2 separate regions of the Homo sapiens genome follow, and region 2 is linked to region 1. The links come from fine-mapping of genetic effects on gene expression. A gene starts in region 1. The other region holds a variant in brackets. All regions are shown on one strand. Distances are from middle to middle. Region 1 holds the start of IFIT1B (interferon induced protein with tetratricopeptide repeats 1B). Region 2 has its middle 9.2 kb from the start of IFIT3.

The links. PIP is the estimated chance that this variant, and not a neighbour inherited with it, causes the effect.
Region 2: its variant is fine-mapped to the expression of IFIT1B in whole blood (TOPMed, PIP above 0.99).

The regions. Positions count from the first base shown.
Region 1 is chr10:89,371,581-89,381,329 of GRCh38, forward strand. IFIT1B (interferon induced protein with tetratricopeptide repeats 1B) reads left to right here and starts at 6,476. Exons shown (of 2, transcript NM_001010987.2): 1 at 6,476-6,560. The coding sequence starts at 6,556. It also overlaps a transcript of LIPA not described here.
Region 2 is chr10:89,313,927-89,323,675 of GRCh38, forward strand. It overlaps a transcript of LIPA not described here. Among named protein-coding and RNA genes, the nearest start is that of IFIT3, 9.2 kb to the right of the region's middle. The variant T/C (reference allele first, on the strand shown) is at 4,489.

The sequences.
Region 1 (9,749 bases):
TCTCCATCGTTTTACCAACTGGTGTTCTCAGAATGCCAGGCATAACACAGGTAAGCATTACTGGTTTGCTGAACGTTTGAACTGATGAGAAGCCCCTGACAATGAATGCTGCTTTGGAGGCTTGTGAGTACTACTTGTAAAGATCGCCTACCATCTGACCAGTTATTTTTACCATTGGAACCTTAAACATCCTTGGAATTCTCAGAGCTATAGGAATAACATGGGTGTTGATCTATGTTCTTTTTAGCCCATCTAATTTAAGATTCTAAATTTTGGTTGCATGAATACTATGCAGCCAAAGGACAAGATCGTGTCCTTTGCAGCAACATGGATGGAGCTGGAGGCCATTATCCTAAGTCAACTAACATGGAAACAGAAAACAAGATACTGCATGTTCTCACTCACCAGTGGGAGCTAAACACTGAGTACATGTGGACACAAAGAAGGGAACAACACAAATATGGGACCTACTTGAGGGTAGAGAGTAGGAGGAAGCCCCTCATAGAGGCCCCTATCACAGAAAACTTCCCGTCTCCGGTGTACTAATTTGGTAGTCAGCTGGCAGTTTCACCGTTGCACATTCTGTCTTATCTGCTTTTGCAGGATTACCATGACTTGAGATACAAGAACAGGTTTATGGTCCTAGACCAAAGCCTTTCCCCTAGTGTGTGCAGCCAGCATCATTGCACACTGCAAGAGTAGCCACAGGGACCCTTTGGGGTCAGACCTGCTCACAGACTAGACAGTCTTGGAAGTATTCTTCCAGTGGGGGAGACAACAGGATTATGATTTTGCCAAACACTTCAGGTTAAAGACCAAAAGTTAACTGAGGAAGTTTTTCATGAACCTCAGGAAGAGATAAACATCCAATTCTCTGTTATTTCAAAGCAACCAATGTGTACTGTTTTTATTAAAAGCAAATTAAGCGCTTATCAATCTGTCTCCTGCTACATGACAGGTCACTTGAGAAGAGGAAACATGCCCTATGTGTCCCAACAGAGTACCTGGCCTGTACCTAATGATAATTCATAGCTTGCTGATTATAGAAATGGACAAGGAGCTTAGAGCAATGAAGTCTGCCTTGGCCATGCTAACAATATGTTTGGATCGCAGGTTCCTTAAACCTCTGTGGGTTTCCCAGAACCATGGGAATGGCATTGAACTTCTTTTTTCAGCTCAATGTATAATCCTAAATTTCAATTGCATCTAGAAAACATCTTCACCTCTTCTCATTTCCTTTATAGACATGGACTTTTCAAGTCCCAAGATACTTCAGACAGTCTAAAAACAACTTGCTTTCCGGGAACCTGAGGACTTTTCCAATAGACATTATAGGATCTATGAAATATCTTGAGTCTAGTTCAGTGATGTAAATGCTTCCTACAATTTATATAGACAATTCCAGGTGAATGAATATTTGACATGTAAAACAATGAAAGCACAGAAATTCAGTTAGAATTGGAACACGTGGGGCCGGACGCGGTGGCTCACGCCTGTAATCCCAGCACTTTGGGAGGCAGAGGCGGGCGGATCATGAGGTCAGGAGATCGAGACCATCCTGGCTAACACAGTGAAACCCCGTCTCTACTAAAAATACAAAAAACATTTGCCGGGCGTGGTGGTGGGTGCCTGTAATCCCAGCTACTCGGGAGGCTGAGGCAGGAGAATGGCGTGAACCCGGGAGGCAGAGCTTACAGTGAGCCAAGATTGCACCACTGCACTCCAGCCTGGGCGACAGAGCGAGACTCCCTCTCAAAAAAAAAAAAAAAAAAAAAAAACTGGAACACGTGGGAGTCAGCCAGAAAAGTAAATCAGAGTAGCCCAAAGATAGCCATCAAGACCCCTGAGGTGGTATGAAGATTACCAGGACTTTCAGAGCAGAGAAGTTCCTAGTAGCTGAGTATTTTCTCTGTGGACATGATTGGTGCAAGTTTGCAAACATGAGTAGTCTCAAAAGCAAACATCAGACACTCTCTGTAGAGGTCAGTGCACTTTGACCTACATCCTTTCTGGTATTGCATGGATTATTAAGGTGCACAAGGGGAAACCAAAGCATAGAAAAATAAAGTTCTAGACTCAGAGCCTCATAGAAAATAGGTATTTATTAGGAATTAGTCTCTGATCCAAAGCATTTGGACCTGAAAGGGATCCAGGGATCATTTGGAAAAGTATCTGTGAAACTTTAATGTACCAACAAATCATCTGGACATGTTAAAAGGCAAGTTCTCATTCAGGAGATCTGTAGAGGGGCCTGATATTCTGCATTTCTGGGCTTTTAGTAGTTGAGGATGCCACTGTAACAGACCATATCCTGAGTAGCAAAAATCTAGTCTAGTGGTTTTAAACCATGCACAAAAAAATCACTTTGGGATTACTTTTTTCAGAAAACTTACTGATAATACTCATGCCTGGGCTTCACTTCCAGAGATTCTGATTGATTGGGCTGGAGATTGGCTCAGGCATCTGCATTTTTAAAAGACTTCCAAGGAATTTTACAACCTTGCAGCCCAAGGTTGTAAACCACTGTTCAAGGCCAACCTTTTTCTATACCTGATGAGGAAACTCAGTGTTTAAGTGAAATCAAGTTCACTCTGCTAGTTCGTCGAACACAGAGCTGGTTCTGGAATGTTGATAGTGGTTAAGTTTTATTTCTCCAATGCTTAAGTTTCATTTCTACAAGTAGGCATCCTGCCCATTAGAAATGAGTTTCCCTCTCTAGTTTCCATTGTTTTTTTCCTATTTGTAGACACAGACACACACACACTCTCTCTCTCTCTCTCTTACACAATGTGTTGGCTGTTTCCTTATTGTTGCTCTGTCCTGTGTGGTTCATGGCTGTATTTATCCAAGGACACACTGGGCCAGATCCTGAATACCTAATCAGTTGAGCCAGAGCCTCACAGAACCAGGACTGCTGCCAAATTCAGTGACCACATGACAAACACTCACTCTGTTTCTCTGACACGCTGTTACTAGCAATAATTTTATGCATGAAAATTCCAAAGTCATACTACTCTCAGTGTAAGCAGCTCTCCTAATGTTCATTTCAGTATTTGCTTATGTTTCTATCCCTTTTAGAGTTGATTCAGGGCTAGTGCCTTACAGAAGATATTTGTATCTGAAAACACAATTGGCCTCCTAGAAGCTTCCCATCTGATACAGAACTGGAGAGAGAGAGCTGAGAGGAAATGAGTCCCATTCCAAAATCTCTTCTCCCCCTACACAGGTCCATCCTCACTAGGGAGAGGTTGAATGCCTGCTGCCCAAGAGGTACTGCTGGGCTCTATGTGTAGATATGGCCAGGGCTCCCTGACCTGAGCCTGAGATGGGAATATGTAGATTGCCCTGGCCTGAAGCTCAGAACAGGACACCCCTATCTCAGCAGCTGCACAGTCAGATATGACATGAAACACCTCTCTCTCAGTGCCCACTGGGAAAAATTGTAGTCTGGAAGGGCTCCAGCTAATGGTCAGCACAGACTGCACAGATAAGGGGACTTGTCCCACACTGTGAAAGCAACACTCACAATTACTGAATGCTGTTAAATGAGACATGCTTTCCATGCAATATCCCACTTCATCTCAACATAACCCCATGACGAAAGTCCTAGTGCTATTCCGATTCCATGGGTAAGTAAATGTGGCTTAGAAATGTGAACCAACTATCCCAAGATCACATGTCCAGTAAGCAGCAAAGTCCATTAATGACCCCAGGTAGTCTGATTCCAGGTGGCCTTCACTACTGAGCAACATCATCTTGTGCGCACAAAGACAAGTAAAGGTAAAGGGTTTTAATAGTTCTCATTATGCCCAAGCTGCAGAGCAAGAAAGGAAACCTCAGAAGAAAACATCCCATTGGCCCCAAATATAGAATAATGGTTGTTCTATGATGGGGTGCTATTGTCTTATACTCAGAGTACACAACCCCAAAATAAACAAGATGGCAAATATCTGTGCAGAACCCCCTCCATCAGGTGATTCTGTCACCTGACAGGTGTAGAAGGTTTTTTCTAATGGCCTTGGTTTGCTCAACCCCAGATGGAACAATGTTTGACTAACAATCATTCTTCCCTTTCAGCAAACTTGGTCTTCCACAGCAGGGCTACGTGGGCCTAGTTTCCTTTCCCTCATTCCCCTGAATGGTTCTAACCTCCATTTCTGTGCTGTCATTATGCTTAGAGAATTTTTCTGCCTACTTTTATTATTAGAGTATACTCAAGGAATAAAATGGGGATTCTCATTACTTAAGTAATGTTGAGATTTGGTGGGTTTATGGAAGAATACATGGATCTAAATGATATCCTGTGCTTGTAAGATGTCAAGACGGGCCAGGTGCAGTGGCTCACACCTGTAATCCCACACTTTAGGAGGCCAACACAGGTGCATCACCTGAGGTCAGGAGTTCGAAACCAGGATGGCCAACATGGTGAAACCCCATCTCTACTAAAAATACAAAAAAATAGCTGGGTATGGTGGTGCACACCTGTAGTGCCAGCTACTCTGGAGGCTGAGGCATGAGAATCACTTGAACCTGGGAGGCAGAGGTTGCAGTGAGCAGAGATAGTGCCACTGTACTCCAGCCTAGGTGATACAGCGAGACTCTATCTTAAAAAAAAAAAAAAAAAAAAAAGAAGAAGAAGTCAAGAGGTCCAGCACATTCTTCTAGGAACTTGTCTCATGCGAATGGGGAGATGTGGTCTATCTCAAGTTGCCTAAATCCTTCCTTGAATAGACGTGGAGATGGGTTTTTAATTCACATAGAGAGAGAGATTATATACTATACTCTTTCTTAAGCATATTCTTTTCCTAAGATGTCTGCTCTCATTTCAACTGTGAATGCATAAGATCTTATGTGACGTTCCTTTTCTGGGTAGTCCTTCTTGTCTATATAATTTTTGGCTTTAGAAAGGTCAGGAGCAGTAACTGGAGCAGTAACTCAGAAGTTCCCTGAAAAGAAAGAGAAGAGCTGCCCCAGACATCTGAGAGCATCATTAACACCTGTGACCATGATGGGTCAAGACAAAATACAAGGCCACTCTGTAATCAGGTCTGAGTGCAGACAAAAATACGAATATTTTCCAACTGGATTCGAAAATAATCAAGCAGCCCCTTAAACTGGCCAATATGAATGACTGCTGCTTCCTTTCAAATTACACCTGTCACCTTGGTCTAGTCTTCTCTTTTTCCAGACACAATTTAAGATACCCAATTATAGAATCATTTCTGCTTCCTGACAGCCTCCCATCCCATGCCCATGACCACACCTTACCACATGGGAGCCTGGGAAATATAGTCTAGTTACAGGCCCAGGACAAAGAAGAAATAGCACAGCGAGGCTACAGTTTCATTTGGTAATTATGAGAAGACTGTAATGAAGTTAATAACCCTACCTTGAAATGCTCACTCAGAGGGAAATCGCTCTCAGTCTTTGCCCTTTTGCTTATCTTGGTGCACTACCCCTACAAAACCAAGATCCAGAAACGTACAGGATGACATTGTAACAATTCACAAGAGGAATTCAGAATAGCAGCTTTCCAAATTTTCCTTTTTCTCTGCTAATTGTGTGGGCAATTACATCAGCCTTGGGATCATATAAATTTTTCATTAAACATGTGAACATTGTTTGATTGACTCTCTGATGGTTGTTGCTTTGTAACAGATAATCTTCAAAATAGTAGAAACAGAAGAAACATAAGGACAACTCAGAAGAACTATGTGAATTTGGATTTAGATTTTTAACCCCCATGACCCCATCACATTCTCTGACTACATTGCATATGTTTCTCTACTGACCAGCTCAAACATTGTTGTTTGAACCACTAATGGTGAACAGTAAAGATCATCAAAACAGTCAATATGCTTGAATAGGCTCCACTATAGCCAGGGTTGGCAGTAATGCAAATGCTGCTGGAGGATGTAACCAGTATGGGACCCTTCTTATAGACCAATATCTCAAAATTGAGGAGTTGTTTTGCCTAACACAGCCCCACAGAAGAAGACCTAACCATCTGCAACCTCATTCTTCCACAAATTGACAATGACTTTCTACAGTATTCTTTTAGGCACAAACCACTGACCCTGGTCTAAGGAGCTTCCATTGTAGACGTCCCTGGAACCACCTGGCGGGATACATGTGATAGTAACAAGTTTGACAACAGAGTCTGACATGATTCACAAAAATATACGTTCCTGTCTGCCACTGGTTTTTCCACAACACTGAATGTCATCATAAAGTCCAGTTACCCTCTATCTCCTACACCACATTGACTCCAGCAAGGGAATTTGCGTATCAAAACTGCTTCTCACACACCCATCCTCTTAGCTGCCAAAACTCAGCATGTATTTGTAATCAAAGCAGAGACAGCCCTATTCCTCTGTATCATTTTCACCCTGCCAATTCACTAGGCATCAAGGGTGTAAAAAACTGCCTGGATATACCTCCCATATATAAGCACCATGCTTATCTGAGAAGCCCTAGAACTCTGTGGATGAACCTTGAAGGAGCCTCCAAGCCTGAACCAAAGCACTACAGATCACCTGCTATCTTCATAGCACCATGAGGTAAAGTCTTTCTCTGCTTCACTGACCTTATTTCTGCACACTTTGAAATTCTAAAACTTTCCTTAAGGGCCAATTTTTTGACAGGCCTTCTCCTAAGGGAGCTGTCCCACTGGTGGTTCTGACCCTGATAGGCACCCTCAACATGATAACCAAGAAGAGTTTAATAAGGGGGCTATTTAAGACGATATGGGCAAAGTTTAGGGAAATCAACAGGAAATGGTGCTTGTTGGTTGCAGGGCAGCGGGAAGAGGCGTGTTGGTTTACAACAGTGGTAACATGATAACCCTGGGCCTACAGGAGCAAGAGGAGAGAACCAGACCCAAGGAGACTCTAAGCTATAGCTGTAGGGGAGGGGCTTCTCAAGAGGCCTTTGGTGAAAAAATCACTGACAACCTCAAGCAGAGCACAGTGGGAGCTTAGGAATTAATTCCATGACCTTCACCTCCTCCTGCAATTTAATATCTGGCTGGTGCTCCCCAGTGGGCCAACCCCAGTAGAAAGTAAAAAATAAAAGAGTTTTGGAGTTAATAAAGTCCATAGAGTCAGCTTCCAAGCACAGAGCATGGTGAAGAATGTAGGAAAGTAGATTCAGAGGGGCAAGATGAGAATATATGTAGAGGCAAGTTTCCTAACTCCTGTTACAGAGCTCGCTTAGTAAGGGTAGCTGGCTTAATAAAAGCAGCAATGCTCTTAAGGAAATAAACGAGAAAGCAATCTTATTTCCAAAGATGTCATTTCTGTAGCACTTTCTAATAGAGGGACAATTACCCAGGCAACACTTAAAGACTGTTCACCAGGGAACAGAGGCCTGAGCCTAGAGAGGAGACTGGCCCGGGGACCAGTCAGGGCAAGAGCATTGAGATCCTTTTAATATACAAAATACTCTTTTAGGCATCCAGGTGAGAAGAAGCAGCTATTTTTATTTGATAAATTGGTTAAATTCACGTGGGAAAAAGAAGCTACTTTCAGAGATGGCTGTTTTTCTGTTGTTTGTTTGTTTTTGATACCAAGTCAAATTTTGTGATTACTGTGAAACTATGAAATTGTGATTACTATGAAATTTGCTTTTCACTGAATTAACTGTTCTCAAAGTGTGGTCCCCTGACTAGCAACATCAGCATCACTTGGGAAGGTAGCAGAAATGCAAATTCTCAGGCCCTACCCTAAACCTGCTGACTCAGAAACTCTAGGGTGGGGCCCATCAATCTGTGTGTTATAAGTTTTCCAGGTGATCATGTTGCCTGCTAAAATTTGAAAAACCATTATACTAGATGTTAGAAAATAAGAAATTTTGTAGGCATTGTGATATGTTTGTTCCACAAAATATATATTTCTTTTTTTCCTGGTGTAGTTAGAACTGGTGACCTGCAGAAAATGCTTTCACTCAAAAGTATTCTGACCTGCTAGAGTTCTCCCATCTGATGTTGCAGTCAGTGGGAGAGGAAGAACTTTACAGAAAAAGGGGCTGCTCTTTTGAGATCCCTTTCTAGCAAACATGTAGACCTGTCTTGAGAAGAAATTATAAATGAAGGATTGCAAAAAAATTCACCACAAGAGTACCCAAGTCTCTCTTTTTAATATAACGGGCTCCTGGTCATAAGATGTTAGTTGTGGCTGGGCATGGTGGCTCACACCTGTAATCCCAGCACTTTGGGAGGCCGAGATGGGCAGATCACGAGGTCAGGAGATCAAGACCATCCTGACTAACAAGGTGAAACCCCGCCTCTTCTAAAAAATACAAAAAATTAGCCGGGAGTGGTGGCGGGCGCCTGTAGTCCCAGCTACTCAGGAGGCTGAGGCAGGAGAATGGCGTGAACCTGGGAGGCGGAGCTTGAAGTGAGCCGAGATTGCACCACTGCACTCCAGCCTGGGCAACAGAGTGAGACTCCGTCTCAAAAAAAAAAAAAAACAAAAGGTATTAGTTGTGTCTGCATCTGTGGAGTTGACAGAAAGCAAGCCTTTCATTCCCTGCTGCCTTGGTAGCTAGTCTATGTGAGAGGTTTTGCAATGGCCTGGGCGTATGTTTCTAGAAGCCACTGACCTGAGGTGGCCTAAGGGGAATCTGGACTATCCCAGACTGAATAATGCCCACATCAAAATCCTCCTGATCCCACTGGTTCAGGGACAGAGGAGCAGATTGAGCTCCTCCTTCCATTCATGCTTATTGATCAAGACAGCTTAAGTGGAGCTTAAGTGGACAAGATCCAGGGAAATGCCTCACAAAACATGGTGACGAGTCCCTGTCTGCCACAGGCATACAGGGATTAGGTCACTACATACATGCACAAACTCATCTTTTTTTTTTTTTTTTTCCAGACAGGGCCTCCCTCTGTCACCCAGTCTGGAGTGCAGTGGCATGATCACAGCTCACTGCAGCCTCCACCTGCCCGGGCTCAGGTGATCCTCCCACGTCAGCCCAAGTCGCTGGGACTACTGGTGTGCATCGCCAGGCCCGGCTAATTTTTGTATTTTTTGAGAGACATGGTTTCGCTATGTTGCCCATGCTGGTCGTGAACTCCTGGGCTCAAGCAATTCACCTGCCTTGGACTCTCAAAGTGTTGGGATTACAGGCATTAGCCACCACGCTGGGGCCTAATTTGATGATAATATGTATACTACTAATAACAGCACTTTCTGTATGCTCACCAGATAAAAGGAGGACTTTAGGCTCTCAGCATTTCCATTTTAGAGAGTGAGGACACCTCTAGGGTGATATTCTACTCCTTAGTCTTCCCAGGGCCCAAGTCAAGAAGATACATGTTGATGAACAACCACCTATAAGAAAGAGCAATAATTCTCTTCTGGAACTTGGCAGGGCAGCCTTGTAAGATTGTGTAAATTGTGCACTTGAAATTCTACAATCTCAGTGAAAGCCAAAATCTAGTATACTTTTTTCCACCTATCAATGCATGGCCATGATTAGATCACTCAGAGGAAGACTGATCTCTTTCTACTGCTCACAAATGTGCTGGGTGGGCTAGCAGCTGAGATGCTGAGATTGGGTACATATTTAGAAAGCTTGGAATGGCTTATCTTCAAATATTCCAGCAGCTCTAGAGTAATGGAAGTCTGTGTGGATTATTTTCCCTGGGTAGTGTCTGTTCTCATCATAGCACAAGCTCCACGGGGCATGAGTGGACGATTTGGGTCAAAAACTCTTCCCGATTCCATCTTCTGTAGGGGTGGTGA
Region 2 (9,749 bases), 58 kb before region 1:
AATTGATTGTGGTGCTGGTTGCATAACTGTGAATATAATGAAAGCTATTGAATTGTATACTTTAAATGAGTGGATTATATGATATGTGAATTATATTTTATTATAGCTGTTAAAAATGGGCACTCTTATTCCAAATATAATAAAGAAAATTTTTCTTTTGTTATCTATTTTTACTTCTAAGTTTGTTTTCATTGTGTTGTATCCTTATTAGTAGCATTTTGAATACTGTCATTGCTTTCACATTCGGTAGATATGTTAGATAAGTTATGTATTCTATTTTCTGAGTTGGGTGTGCTATGAAAATCTGGTCCCATCTGATTTTATATTTAAATACTCATACGCAGGAACCTTACTGATTGGCAAATTGGCACAAAGAAAGAGTCCAAATACAGAAGAGAATTTGACTCCATATGTAAGTTCAAATCTGCATGTGTACAAGTTTAAGAATAATGTGAATTTATGCCCGAGCGCAGTGGCTTACGCCTCTAATCCCAACACTTTGGGAGGCCAAGGCGGGTGGATCACGAGGTTTAGAGATCGAGACCATCCTGGCCAACATGGTGAAACCCCATCTCCACTAAAAATACAAAAATTAGGTGGGTATGGTGGTGGGTACCTGCAGTCCCAACTATTCGGGAGGCTGAGGCAGGTGAATTTCTTGAACCCAGGAGGTGAAGGTTGCAGTGAGCCGAGATTGTGCCACTGCACTCCAGCCTGGCTACAGAGCGAGACTCTGTCAAAAAGAAAAAAAAGAATAGTATGAATTTCTTAATGATGCAGAATGTTATTCAGTCACCATGTGCAACTGTTGCAAATACTGCTAATTCATGAGTACTTTTTGAGCCAGGAATTAGAACAAAAAGAAAAGCAAGAAAATGGACAATAGGTCCTACTGTACTGGAAAAATAATTATTCATTACATAAGAATCTATTGCATTCTGGTGAAAGACAGTCTTTGAGCAGTTTGCTGAATTTGCCTTTTCTCTGATCTTTATTGCTACAATCCTCTCTGAACTCCAAAGCAGAATCTGTCTCTAAAAATCAGCTCCCTCACAATGCACAAACATGCATGATATAATCTCCATTCATTGTGAGCAAAGAAGGGAAGATAGGCAACTTTTCCCTGGGCTGGATGTTTAGGGTTTCAAGTCCAATTCTACCAGAATTAAGCACTGGATTCTGAGTAACAGAGGTGCTATTTGTTCTTTCAAAATTTTACATGTTTGTATCTGTGATATATGGGACCCTCTAAAGCACGGGGCCAAAGGCACCTTCTAACTGGGTATAAGGATGGTATTTATACCATTTATGATATCACAAATATATGTACCTTTTATAAAGATATGTCACTTTATTATCACCAAGATAACAAATTGTTAAGTTAAACAACCAATCAGAATTAGACTTTTCCAAGTTGCAGGTTTCTTTCTTAGACTATAACAACCTCTGAACTCGAAGTATCTCATGAGACTCTGTTGTTGGAAACACCATATGTCATGTTAATTTTGCTACACAAGAGTCTCTGCTTTGTGCAGCTACAGGATGGAGGAAACGCTTCTAGCTAACAATTCCTTCATTATCAAATTAGTCATGACAACTATACTCCCTAGGTTTTTATGAATATTTACATCATGGTTGGGAAGTATTATAAAAATGAAAAGAAAAAAAAAACCTCTCAGGGTAGTATCAACTCCTTCAGAGCTCAAAGCATAAATATATAATCCATCCATTAAACAATAATATGTGTATTACTTTTGCCCATTTTACAGCTGGGTAAACTAAATTATTATCCAGAGCTTGGAAAGCTAAACAGCTCACAGATCCCTCCAGGGCCTGGCTTCGTATGTTTAGTGTGAGGCAAAAAGGAAATTCTGGCTCAATGATATGGCCCCTGGAAAATTCGAGAACTAGTAAAGTAAACAGAGATAATTAAATCTAGGTCTCTAGGTCTAAATTTACTTCTGGGGGACAATTTACTGGACAAAACTACTATTTTTTTTTATTATACTTTAAGTTTTAGGGTACATGTGCACATTGTGCAGGTTAGTTACATATGTATACTAAAACTACTATTTTTTTTACAAAACATTTTGGAAGTCTTTCATATAACCGGCTCCCAGAAACCCCTACATCAGAATCTCCTAGAGACATTATTAAAAATGCAGTTTCAGAGGAGGTTCCAAGATGGCCAAATAGGAACAGCTCCAGTCTATAGCTCCCAGCATGAGTGATGCAGAAGATGGTAGTTTCTGCATTTCCAACTGAGGTACTGGGTTCATCTCACTGGGGCTTGTCAGATAGTGGGTGCAGCCCACACAGTGTGGGCCAAAGCAGGGCGGGGCATCGCCTCACCCGGGAAGTGCAAGGAGTCAGGGAATTCCCTTTCCTAGCCAAGGGAAGCCATGACAGATGGTACTTGGAATATTGAGACACTCCCACCCTAATACTGCGCTTTTCCAACGGTCTTAGCAAACAGAACACCAGGAGATTATATCCTGCTCCTGGCTCAGAGGGTCCCATGCCCAGGGAGCCTTGCTCACTGCTGGCACAGCAGTCTGAGATGGAACTGCAAGGCAGCAGTGAGGCTGGGGGAGGGGCGCCCACCATTGCTGAGGCTTGAGTAGGTAAACAAAGTGGCTAGGAAGCTCAAACTGGGTGGAGCCCACCACAGCTCAAGGAGGCCTGCCTGCCTCTATAGACTCCACCTCTGGGGCAGGGTATAGCTGAACAAAAGGCAGCAGAAACTTCTGTAGACTTAAACACCCTTGTCTGACAGCTTTGAAGAGAGTAGTGGTTCTCCCAGCACGGAGTTTGAGATCTGAGAATGGACAGACTGCCTCCTCAAGTGGGAGTTAGTCTGTTACTCCTCCCTGAGTAGCCTAACTGGAAGGCACCTCCCAGTAGGGGCTGACTGACACCTCATACGGCAGAGTGCACCTCTGCGATGAAGCTTCCAGAGAAAGGATCAGGCAGCAACATTTGCCTTTCTGCAGCCTCCACTGGTGATACCCAGGCAAACAGGGTCTGGAGTGGACTTCCAGCAAACTCCAACAGACCTGCAGCTGAGGGTCCTGACTGTTAGAAGGAAAACTAAAAAACAGAAAGGACATCCACACCAAAACCCCATCTGTATGTCACCATCATCAAAGACCAAAGGTAGATAAAACCACAAAGATGGGGAGAAACCAGAGCAGAAAAGCTGAAAATTCTAAAAAATCAGAGTGCCTCTTCTCCTCCAAAGGAATGCAGCTGCTTGCCAGCAATGGAACAAAGCTGGACGGAGAATGACTTTGATGAGTTGAGAGAAGAAGGCTGCAGACAATCGGTAATAACAAATTTCTTCGAGCTAAGGGAGGATGTTTGAACCCATGGCAAAGAAGCTAATAACCTTGAAAAAAGATTCGACGAATGGCTAACTAGAATAAAGAGCGTAGAGAAGACCTTAAATGATGTGATGGAGCTGAAAACCATGGCATGAGAACTATATGACGCATGCACAACCTTCAGTAGCCAATTCATCAACTGGAAGAAAGGGTATTAGTGATTGAAGATCAAATGAATGAAATGAAGTGAGAAGAGAAGTTTAGAGAAAAAAGAGTAAAAAGAAATGAACAAAGCCTCCAAGAAATATGGGACTATGTGAAAAGACCAAACATACATCTGACTGGTGTACCTGAAAGTGACACGGAGAATGGAACCAAGTTGGAAAACACTCTGCAGGATATTATGCAGGAGAACTTCCCCAACCTAGCAAGGGAGGCTAACATTCAAATTCAGGAAATACGGAGAACGCCACAAAGATATTCCTCGAGAAGAGCAATTCCAAGACACATAATTAGCAGATTCACCAAAGTTGAAATGAAGGAAAAAATGTTAAAGGCAGCCAGAGAGAAGGGTCAGGTTACCCACAAAGGGAAGCCCATCAGACTAACAGCAGATGTCTCGGCAGAAACTCTACAAGCCAGAAGAGAGTGGGGGCCAATATTCAACATTCTTAAAGAGAAGAATTTTCAACCCAGAATTTCATATCCAGCCAAACTAAGCTTCATAAGTGAAGGAGAAATAAAATCCTTTACAGACAAGCAAAGGCTGAGAGATTTTGTCACCACCAGGCCTGCCTTACAAGAGCTCCTGAAGGAAGCACTAAACATGGAAAGGAACAACCGGTACCAGCCACTGCAAAACATGTCAAAGTGTAAAGACCATCGGTGCTAGGAAGAAACGGCATCAGCTAACGAGCAAAATAACCAGCTAACATGATAAGGACAGGATCATATTCACACATAACAATATTAACCTTAAATGTAAATGGGCTAAATACCCCAATTAAAAGACACAGACTGGCAAATTGGCTAAAGAGTCAAGAACCATCAGTGTGCTGTATTCAGGAGAGCCATCTCATGGCAGAGACACACATAGGCTAAAAATAAAGGGATAGAGGAAGATCTACCAAGCAAATGGAAAATAAAAAAAGCAGGGTTGCAATCC[T/C]AGTCTCTGATAAAACAGACTTTAACCAACAAAGATCAAAAGAGACAAAGAAGGCCATTACATAATGGTAAAGGGATCAATTCAACAAGAAGAGCTAACTATCCTAAATATATATGCACCCAACACAGGAGCACCCAGGTTCATAAAGCAAGTCCTTAGAGACCTACAAAAAGATGTAGACTCCCAAACAATAATAACAGGAGACTTTAACACCCCACTGTCAACATTAGACAGATCAACGAGACAGAAAGTTAACAAGGATATCCAGGAGTTGAACTCAGCTCTGCACCAAGCAGACCTAATAGACATCTACAGAACTCTCCACCCCAAATCAACAGAATATACATTCTTCTCAGCACCACATTGCACTTATTCCAAAACTGACCACATAGTTGGAAGTAAAGCACTCCTCAGCAAATGTAAAAGAACAGAAATTATAACAAACTGTCTCTCAGACCACAGTGCAATCAAACTAGAACTCAGGATTAAGAAACTCACTCAAAACTGCTCAACTACATGGAAACTGAACAACGTGCTCCTGAATGACTACTGGGTACATAAGAAAATGAAGGCAGAAATAAAGATGTTCTTTGAAACCAATGAGAACAAAGACACAACACACCAGAATCTCTGGGACATATTTAAAGCAGTGTATAGAGGGAAATTTATAGCACTAAATGCCCACAAGAGAAAGCAGGAAAGATCTAAAATTGACACCTAATATTACAATTAAAAGAACTAGAGAAGCAAGAGCAAACACATTCAAAAGCTAGCAGAAGGCAAGAAATAACTAAGATCAGAGCAGAACTGAAGGAGATAGAGACAAAAAACCCTTCAAAAAAATCAATGAATCCAGGAACTGATTTTTTGAAAGGATCAACATTATTGATAGACCACTAGCAAGACTAATAAAGAAGAAAAGAGAGAAGAATCAAATAGATGCAATTAAAAATGATAAAGGGGATATCACCACCAATCACACAGAAATACAAACTATCATCAGAGAATACTATAAACACCTCTATGCAAATAAACTAGAAAATCTAGAAGAAATGGATAAATTCATGGACACATACACCCTCCCAAGACTAAACCAGGAAGAAGTTGAATTCCTGAATAGACCAATAACAGGGTCTGAAATTGAGGCAATAATTAATAGCCTACCAACCAAAAAAAGTCCATGACCAGATGGATTCACAACTGAATTCTACCAGAGGTACAAAGACGAGCTGGTACCATTCCTTCTGAAACTATTCCAATCAATAGAAAAAGAGGGAATCCTCCCTAACTCATTTGATGTGGCCAGCATCATCCTGATACCAAAGCCTGGCAGAAACACAACAAAAAAAGAGAATATCAGGCCAATACCCCTGATGAACATCGATGCAATGCAAATATCCTCAATAAAATACTGGCAAACTGAATCCAGCAGCACATCAAAAAGCTTATCCACCATGATCAAGTTAGCTTCATCACTGGGATGCAAGGCTGGTTCAACATATGCAAATTAATAAATGTAATCCAGCATAAAAACAGAACCAAAGACAAAAACCACATGATTATCTCAATAGATGCAGAAAAGGCCTTTAACAAAATTCAGTAGCCCTTCATGCTAAAAACTCTCAATAAACTAGGTATTGATGGGACATATCTCAAAATAATAAGAGCTATTTATGACAAACCCACAGCCAATATCATACTGAATGGGCAAAAACTGGAAGTATTCCCTTTGAAAACTGGCACAAGACAGGGATGCCCTCTCTCAACACTCCTATTCAAAACAGTGTTGGAAGTTCTGGCCAGGGCAATCAGGCAGGAGAAAGAAATAAAGGGTATTCAATTAGGAAAAGAGGAAGTCAAATTGTCCCTGTGTGCAGATGACATGATTGTATATTTAGAAAACCCCATAGTCTCAGCCCAAAAGCTCCTTAAGCTGATAAGCAACTTCAGCAAAGTCTCAGGATCCAAAATCAATGTGCAAAAATCACAAGCATTCCTATACACCAATAACAGACAAACAGAGAGCCAAATCATGAGTGAACTCCCATTCACAATTGCTTCAAAGAGAATAAAATACCCAGGAATCCAACTTACAAGGGATGTGAAGGACCTCTTCAAGCAGAACTACAAACCACTGCTCAATGAAATAAAAGAGGACACAAACAAATGGAAGAACATTCCATGCTCATGGATAAGAAGAATCAATATCGTGAAAATGGCCATACTGCCCAAGGTAATTTATAGATTCATGCCATCCCCATCAAACTACCAATGACTTTCTTCACAGAATTGGAAAAAACTACTTTAAAGTTCATATGGAACCAAAATAGAGCCTGCATTGCCAAGACAATCCTAAGCCAAAAGAACAAAGCTGGAGCCATCACACTACCTGACTTCAAACTATACTACAAGGCTACAGTAACCAAAACAGCATGGTACTGGTACCAAAACAGAGATATAGACCAATGGAACAGAACAGAGCCCTCAGAAATAATACCACACATCTACAACCATCTGATCTTTGACAAACCTGACAAAAACAAGCAATGGGGAAAGGATTCCCTATTTAATAAATGGTGCTGGGAAAACTGGCTAGCCATATGTAGAAAGCTGAAACTGGATCCCTTCCTTACACCTTATACAAAAATTAATTCAAGATGGATTAAAGATTTAAATGTTAGACCTAAAACCATAAAAACCCTAGAAGAAAACCTAGGCAATACCATTCAGGACATAGGCATGGGCAAGGACTTCATGTCTAAAACACCAAAAGCAATGGCAACAAAAGCCAAAATTGACAAATGGGATCTAATTAAACTAAAGAGCTTCTGCACAGCAAAAGAAACTACCATCAGAGTGGACAGGCAACCTACAGAGTGGGAGAAAATTTTTACAATCTACCCATCTGACAAAGGACTAATATCCAGAATCTACAAAAAACTTAAACAAATTTACAAGAAAAAAATCAAACAACCCCATCAAAAAGTGGGCAAAGGCTATGAATGGACACTTCTCAAAAGAAGACATTTATGCAGCCAACAGACACATGAAAAAGAGCTCATTATCACTGGCCATCAGAGAAATGCAAATCAAAACCACAATGAGATGCCATCTCACACCCGTTAGAATGGCCATCATTAAAAAGTCAGTAACAACAGGTGCTAGAGAGGATGTGGAGAAATAGGAACACTTTTACACTGTTGGTAGGACTGTAAACTAGTTCAACCATTGTGGAAGACAGTGTGGCGATTCCTCAAGGATCTAGAACTAGAAATACCATTTGACCCAGCCATCCCATTACTGGGTATATATCCAAAGGATTATAAATCATGCTGCTATAAAGACACATGTACACGTATGTTTATTGCAGCACTATTCACAATAGCAAAGACTTGGAACCAACCCAAATGTCCATCAATGATAGACTGGATTAAGAAAATGTGGCACATATACACCATGGAATACTATGCAGCCATAAAAAAGGATGAGTTCATGTCCTTTGTAGGGACATGGATGAAGCTGGAAACCATCATTCTGAGCAAACTATCGCAAGGACAGAAAACCAAACACCGCATGTTCTCACTCATAAGTCGGAACTGAGCAATAAGAACAACTGGACACAGGATGGGGAGCATCACACACTGGGGCCTGTCATGGGGTAGGGGGAGGGAGGAGGGTTAGCATTAGGAGATATACCTAATGTAAATGACGAGTTAATGGGTGCAGCACACCAACATGGCACAAGTATACATATGTAACAAACCTGCGTGTTGTGCACATGTATCCTAGAACTTAAAGTAAAATTTTAAAAAATGCAGTTTCGAGCTCGGGGTTAAGATGGTAAACTAGAAGCAACTCATGTGCCAGGCTATCACGGAAAGGAAACAAAAGGGCTAGTGAGCATTGACCCTGCAGGCCAATCATCTGAGAAATCATGTCAGGGATTCGGGATCCTTCAAGATGTAAGGGGATTACAGAGAGCAGAAAGGGGTGAAGCTAGATACCAGCCTGTCCGGGCTCAGCGTGGATCCAGGAGAATTTCTCCAACACTGGAAAGGGTGAGTGAGTGAGAACCCCCTAGGGGATTCACACTCTCGACAGGGACCTGTGCAAGACTGGAAATGGGAGAATGCCCCTGAAACCCCTGCCCACCCCCGACCCCACCACCGTGCTTCTAGACTGAGGCAGAGAGCCCCCCAGACATTTTGGAGGGCAACTCTCTAGTCCAAGGAGACTTCTGCAAGCCTTGTGCCCCCAAGAAGACCAGCACTGGTGCCATAGCCCAATAAAGGCTGCAGTCCCAGTGCCTAGGAGCAGTAAGATTGCCCCATCTCAAACCCTTTCTGGATGGGGCTTGGTGCCAGCTTCCAGCCTACTGGTCCTACTTCTCTGTCTGAACTCAGCCAGTGACCATAGCCTCCTGTTCTCCCAGGAAGCACCTGGAGGGCAAGACAGGTGACTACATCTACCCCTGCCACTGGTTGCCAGGCAGGCAACACTTGCTAGAGCTTCCATCCCAGTGGTTCCACTTCTGTCTGAATTCAGCCAGAGAGCACAGCCTCCTGTTGTCCTGGGAAACATTCAGGCAAGGTAGGCAACCCCACCTACCCTGGCCTCTTGTAGCCAGGCAAGCCATGCCTGCTAGAGCTTCCAATTTATGTCCCACAGCCAAATTCTCATTTCCCATTCCTTTATAAAATTCTTGTTTCTGTTGGTTCAACATACACAAATCAATAAATGTGATTCACCACATAAGCAGAACTTAAAACTGAAACCACGTGATCATCTCAATAGATACAGAAAAGGCTTTTGATAAAATTCAACATCCATTAATGTTAAAAATCCTCAACAAACTAGATATTGAAGGAACATACCTCCAGATAATAAGAGCCATCTATGATAAACCCAAGGTCAACATCATACTGAATGGGCGAAAGCTGAAAGATTTCCCCTTGAGAACTGGAAAAATACAGGGATGCCCACTCTTAGCACTCCTATTCAACAGAGTACTGCTAGCATGAGCAAGCAGGCAAGAGAATGAAATAAAAGGCACCTAGATAGGAAGAGAGGAAGTCAAACTATCTATCTTTGCAGACAATTTGATTGCATACCTAGAAAACCCCCACGTCTCTACCCAAAAGCTCGTAGGTCTAATAAACAGCTTCAGCAAAGTTCCAGGATACAAAATCAACATACAAAAATGAGTAGCATTCCTATACACTAACAAAATCCAAGCCGAGAGCCAAATCAGGAAGACAATC